2 linked regions of the Homo sapiens genome follow. The protein of the gene in region 2 interacts with the protein of the main gene of each other region in a biochemical or structural test. Each region holds a gene or a part of one and is shown on either strand. Other genes may lie near its edges.

What was found. Proteins that work in one complex are often made in the same cells at the same time.
Region 1: the proteins of ADGRA3 (region 2) and PDZRN3 interact in a test that uses a peptide from one of them, tested with the Homo sapiens proteins (one large-scale study listed by IntAct).

What each region holds. Positions count from the first base shown.
Region 1 is NC_000003.12:73,600,942-73,604,441, reverse strand, and holds part of PDZRN3 (E3 ubiquitin-protein ligase PDZRN3), read left to right. Parts: intron 1-1,980; coding exon 1,981-2,088; intron 2,089-3,500. UniProt on the Homo sapiens protein: E3 ubiquitin-protein ligase. Plays an important role in regulating the surface level of MUSK on myotubes. Mediates the ubiquitination of MUSK, promoting its endocytosis and lysosomal degradation. Might contribute to terminal myogenic differentiation.
Region 2 is NC_000004.12:22,436,067-22,439,566, forward strand, and holds part of ADGRA3 (adhesion G protein-coupled receptor A3 precursor), read right to left. Parts: intron 2,355-3,500; coding exon 2,190-2,354; intron 576-2,189; coding exon 374-575; intron 1-373. UniProt on the Homo sapiens protein: Orphan receptor that may have a role in planar cell polarity pathway.

The DNA of each region.
Region 1 (3,500 bases), on a different chromosome or scaffold from region 2:
GACCTTGGATGAGTTTCCGAACCTCTCTCAGTCTCAGGTTTTTCACCTGTGGAATGGGTAATAATAGTACTTACCACTTGTGGTTATTGTGAGGATTAAACAGTGCACATAGAGCACTCACTATGTACCTGGTACCTAGTTTGTGCTCAGTAAAGGAAGCTGCTTTGCAGCTTTATACATATATTTCAGGTGTGCATGTAGGGAGCTACACGGATGTGTTCAGACTAGTGCCTCAGTAAGGCTGCCGTGAGAGAGGAAGGAGGCACAGAGGTATTCAGATGGTAAAGGGTTAGTGTGCAGGAGGTCTGTGCAGAGCACTGTGATGCTAGGCAGGGATGCCTTTTGAGGATAGATGATCCTACACAGCACCCACAGGCTCCCTGACCCTTCTCTTGGAAGAGCGTTGATGGAATCCAGATGCCAGTTAGAGACATATCTTTGTCATGTGGGGATAAATGTCAGGAAAAACACTTAATGCTCATTTTAGGTTGTGATTTTGGTTTCTTTTGGTGAATCATATAACATTTTACTCTGTGTGTGTGTGTGTGTGTGTGTATGTGTGTGTGTGTGTTTGGGGAAGTGTGAAGAAGGAAGGAGAGAAGGACTGAGAAATGTACATTTTTCCAAGCTTAGTTATTGCTGTTGCATTTGAAGGGGTAGACTGAATCACACTTGAAGTCGTTTCCTTCCCCCTTTAGAATATAGGGATTGTTTTTTGGTTTTGTTTTTTGCTGTTTAAAGTGGAAAATGTTTTATTTGAAGAGTTATTTTTAACAAATGGAATTTTTATGTATTTGTATTCAGAGTAATTGTTATTGAAATAAATCTTCTAATGACATACGGCAAGGAATTTACCATGACTAGATTTTGGAGTTTTTGTGGAACATTCTGAGCTTACATTTCAAATGATTTTGTTTGGAAATATCACATGCTTGTGCCATTTAATTTATAAATCCATCTGTTAATCACTAGAAATTTAATCCGTACACTTGGAGAGAATTCATTGCAGTGCTGTTTGAAAAGAAGTTCGTGAACAAGCTGTGAGGGTTTTTTATGAGCTTGTTGGAGCCTTTTGATTTTAAGGAAAGGAAGGAGTTTGAACAGTGAGCTGTCTTCGTTCCCAGAAAGTTTTAGTTCTGACATTTAATTCAAAGATCTAAAGAGATTCAAGGAGGTCAGAGATCAGAATTTATTAGGACTAGAGTGATGGTAGTGCATCGGAACAAAAACAAAATATCTGTTTTCACAGTCAAATTATTAGATATTTACAAGTTTAATAACATTCTGTGCAAATGAGGATGTGGGAAAACACTCTGTCTAATGAACAATAAGTATAAACTCTCTGAAAAGCCATTTGGCAATATCTTTGAAATGTACATATCCTTTTACCCAACAGTTCCATTGTTAGGGATTTGCCCTAGAACTATAATAGCAAAGATAATTTAAAATACAAGTAGGAGAGTATTATCACAGCATTGTTTAATCACAGCAAATGAAAACAGTGTTTATTAGCCTCATGTTGGATACTGTTCAGTCACTTTAAGAAGTAAGGCAGACACGAATTGGTAGCAGAAGATCTTCATGATTTTTAGAGTTAAATGAGAGAGGCAAGGACATAAGAGTCAGACTAGCATAATCACATTTGTATGCAAAAAGGAACAAATGCATATTTAGGAATATGATGTGTTAAAATGTTTTCAAAAGGATGCATAAAGTCAAATAGCTACCATAGGCGGGGGAAGAAGGACAATGGGTTGGAGATGGCAGGGATGCATCATTTTATGTCCTTTGGTGTGGTTTGAAATATTTTACTGTGTGTGTATTTTAGTTTAAAACAGAAATTAGGAGAAACAAATACCTTTTACCCTATTGCCACTCTTGACACAGCAAGAGTCAATTACTGTTTTAAGAGTGCAAGCTTTACTTTCATGCTCAACTTAATGCCTAGCATTCATGCATGTTTTTTTTTTTAACCCAAAGGATAACCACGATGGATCATCCAGTGAAGGAATCTTTGTATCCAAGATAGTTGACAGTGGGCCTGCAGCCAAGGAAGGAGGCCTGCAAATTCATGACAGGATTATTGAGGTATGTGAATACTGGCCAGTGTCTTTGAATAGGCTGAATGCCATCCCATCTTCGTCTAGCTCAAAGCAAGATGTTTGACTGGGGAGGGAGGCCTAAAGTGGTAGATGGTTGAGCGGGAGTCTCACTTTTCCCATTGTGTGGGACCAGATTGAGTGTTGATTGCCTTGGTGTTAAATTTTTGTTAAATGTAGAAAAGCCAGATTATGAGTGGAATGTTCACAATTTGGCTTTTTTCATGTGGACCTCAATCTGTTTCGTATGCATCAGTTACAGTTTCGCGCGAAAACCGTTGAAGAGTTGGATGTTAGAACCAGATGAACGAACCCTGTTGTACAAATTGTGCACCCTGTTCATATTGATTACCAGGGTACAATTGTGTCAGCTTTGGAGTCATTCTAATGTCCTCAGAGCTCACACAGCACACACTTATTTCTACAAATGCATTGTTCTCTCTGTTAGTTTGTCGTCTTTGCCTGTTGTTAGTTGTACAACCTGATTGCCCAGGGATTTGCAGGCAGAGGTTGATATTAGGGTTCACATATCATCACTTACTCCATTTTCAGTTCGTCATTCATCATTTCAAACTTTTATACAGCAGGTTTGTAGACTCATGTAGGGGAAGTGGATCTCTCAGCCCCACCAGACAACACTTTGTAACAGGGTTGCAGTGTTCTAGGATGCTCTGAGTCACTAAAAGGGAGAGAATGATTTGTTGCCTTCTCATATGGGCTCTTGTTGCAAAGTTTGATATAAATGAGTAATTTTTTACTGGTGTTTTGACCATTTTCATAGCTCTTTGGATGGATACACATATGGGCTAAATTGATTGGCTTTCCTATTAGGCAAAAAGTAAATTTGAGAATCCACGATGATATGCCAGACCCCACAAGAAATTCACCCATGGGCCACAGCCGTAATATAGTGCAAATAGAAGAAACCAGAAAAACAGCACCGATACCAGTGGGTGTTTGTTTTCCACATGCATTTTTATCATGTCTGTATTTCCTGAGTATTTTCATGGCCTATTTCAAAATTTAGGACTGAGTGGGAGCTAGGACCACGAGCTAAGCCATAAGTGAAGTTCACATCACTCACTGGAATGTGGCCACAGGCTTCTCCTGGGGAAAGGAGCCTCAGCAAGACAGAGAACAAAGTCTTGCATTTCCAGTCTCATCTGGACACATTCTGCAACGTGCAGTATGCTTCAGGATAATTTGTAATCCTCAGGAAAATACACAGTTAAATCTCACAGGGAAAGCAAACTGAACTAGTTAGGGTGTAAGGCTCCCTCCTCGGAGGGAGTGTGATGTGCTAACTTACATGCTAAAATGATACTTGATTTTGTTTTAAGGACATTATTAATATTGTTGCATCCCCTTTGAATGTTTGAAGGGTTCTTAAACTTGGAGCTT
Region 2 (3,500 bases):
CAAAAAGCACATGAGTAGTTCAAGTATTCTAAGCAATCGCTTTCAACAAAGTGATTATAAAATGAATCCAAGAGGTGGCTTTCAATGTGAACTCGAAGGATGGTTAGGATTCTGTCTGGTGGATACAGATTAAAAAAAAGATATTCAAACAAAGGCACAAAGGGAGATGGTGACTGCAAAGGAAGGATTCTATAGAGGGCCTTGACTAGTGATTAAGATGGACCTGATCCTGAAGACAGTTAAGTCAACTAAAGTAAAAACACAAAATCCTTATGTTTTGCCTAGTATTAAAAAAAAAAAAAAAACTTATGTATTTGGTTTGAATACCATGTTTTCTCCACAACCCAAGTAAACATGAAGACTTTCTAGTTACCTGATTAAACATATAAAGAACTCTAGTGACATCATTTGCATACTGACAGCGAGAATAATCATCATCTGCCCAAAAGCCACCTCTATCACATCTGCGCCAAGCTTTTCTCTCATCCTGTGGGTTTCCGGGATATATCCCACTGCCATGGGTGTTCCGCGTACACTGCAGATATGCAGTAATGCCTGCCAATGTTCTGGGCCATCTAGAGATGAAGACAAAATAGTACAAGAAAATCTAAATGACACGGGTACATCAAGAATAACAACAGCAGAGAAAAAAATCAAAGATGAAGATGTGTCATGTCAATACAACCCTGACACGGGTCATCAAAACTGGGCTGGGAGAAACCTTTGTTATTTGAACTCTATGTCTCCAAAACTGAGAATGAAATTCAACATGTTTAATACAAGTTACCATGGATGCTCATCACAGGAACCACTAAATGACAGTATCAGTCACACCAAAACAGAATTCATTACAAAAACCACATAAATAGATCAAGCAACACTAAACTAAATCTTATTAATGCAGTGGGAATTTAATTGCATAATATCTTAAGGAGTGTCAAAGACAAATAATTCATTGATCTATAAACATTTAATTGCTCTATTTTTAAAAATGTAAAGCACTCAAAACTATGAGAATATAGAAAATCTACCATAAATAGTAAATATCATATTAGGATTATTTGATAAAAGATGTTGAATGTAACAAAATTACCAAATATCATATATTTCACTTAAAAGCATGTACTATAAATATTATAGATCAATACCTAATCTACATAAAAGACTTATCCATTGGCAATAATAAATGTTGATTTCCATATATTGATGTCAAGAATAACTTTTTTAAAAAGAGCAATGGCAAACTAGCTGAGATAAAGATGTTATTATTGCTTCTTTACTTTGGATTTAAAAGATTAACACCAAAGGGTTTTCCCACCCTTGAAACACTGAGGTTAGAGACAGGAGGTAACAACTGAACCCATTAGAGACAATGCAAACTGGGTAATAAACAATCTTTATGCTGCTTCAAAGAATAACATATTTCCCTTTGTTCATATCAACTATAAACTCATTTTTTAAATCCCTGAACATAAATAAGATCAAGTAAATAAGATATTTAAAGATGTCTTAAAGCACCTTTGAAAGTAAAGAGAGTTTAAGGTAAAAGCTGTCATCTCTTGCAAATCCTAAACTTTCTACTAAAATAAAAAAATAAATAAATAACTCCCTTTGCTTAGATTAACAAACCCCACCTGGGATTCCATGGCTCCCCAAGTTTCAGGCTACCCAACAGCTTTCATTTCCCAAAGTCCTTCTTGCTTGATTTCCAGAAGAACTGAACAAGGGGAGAAAATTAGATAGGTGTTTCTTCTAATTCTGATGCCTACTGAACTGCCAGTAGTGAAAAGTACCTTAGCAATATAAAACCTTCCAAGGTTCATCTATAAAAGAGCCACTGGGGGGAAAAAAAACAGAAAATACCTTACTTAACCTGTTTGAATTTTGTACTCTTTTACCAGAATATCTCCAATGTTTCCCTAAGGCAATGGCTCTTACACAACAAAACCATTTGTTAAAAATGACTCTACTTTCAGAGATTCTTCAATCAACAGGTCTGAGATAAAGTTCAAGCACCCCTTTTGTTCATCTCCATATGTGATTCTGAAATCATTATTCTAAAGGGTAGTCCTCAGACATGTGCAGTTCTCAAATTTTGTTACTCAGGACAGGAAACCAATAATGTGTCTTAGACAACAGAAGGATCTGGGACAAATTAAACTTTTCCCCGTATTTTCCACAACACTGACCTGAAGTCACCTTTGTTGTTTACCACCCTCTCTGGAGGACAGTACTGTGCAGAACTCTCTAATACCACAATATCCACAGTCCTCGTATTATTCCCACGTTTGGTCTGGACATGACAGCCCCAATTTCCAGTAGATCCAGCCTGAATATTAGAAATGGTTAGGGCACTGCATAAAGAAAGATTTTAAAAAGAGAGAAAATATAATTAGGCAAAAAAGGAGACAATAATGGGTCTCAATCATTAATTTAGCAAATATTTTTGAATGCATATTGTGGGGTAAGCACTTGCTATATAAAAATGAATTTAAAAAATGATTCCTTCCTTTAAATCCTTCAATCTCAAGGCAAAAAAGGAAAGAGATCTTTAAAATACACAATCAGGGCAATAAGAGACATATGAATCAAATGCAATGCTATACGACGCATGAGAATTCTCCTTGCAGAAATAGGGAGAGCAGAACACTTTACAGAACAGGAATGGCAAGTAATCCCAGCACTCTGGGAGACAGAGGCGGGTGGCAGGAGTTCAAGACCAGCCCAGCCTTCAAGATCAGCCTGGCGAAACCCTGTCTACACTAAAAATATTTTTAAAAGTTAGCCGGGTGTTGTGGCAGACACTTGTAATCCCAGCTGCTTGGGAGGCTGAGTGAGGCTGGAGGATGGCTTGAACCCAGGAGGCGGAGGTTGCAGTGAGCCAAGAGAGCACCACTGCACTCCAGCCTGGGTGACAGAGCAAGTCTCTGTTTCATACACACAAAAAAAGAACAGGAATGGCAAGCCCAAAGGCAGAAACATCGTCGTACATTCTTTAGCAAAACTTAGAGAAGTTTCCAAGTCACATCTCCCTTCTCACAGATTCTGAAGAAAATATTCAAACATGAAAAAAGAAGATTATTACGAATTTACATAATTAAGAAAATGTTTAAGGTAAAATATAAAGGGTTACACTAGAAACAAACCAGTTACCTCCCTAAAAAGATTTAGTAAATTACCAATTAATACTTTCACAAAAGGTTTCTGTGTTAAGGTATATTTCAATTCATAAAACAGCTGTGTTTCTAAATGGCTGTCAGTAAATCCAATTTCCAAGATGAAATCATAATTCTCTAATATAAAACCTATTAATTAAGGAGCAAATGTCAGAGCCTTCAATTAACCTTTATTTCCCCCACAGGACCCAGTATGCGTTGCTGTTATGTAGACACAAATGATAAGAAATAATTAGACAGAAAGTATGTATCATTTTAATTAACTTACAAAATTATGTCTTAAAGTAAATACACATTTGTCCGATCTCCTAAATCATTGACGGC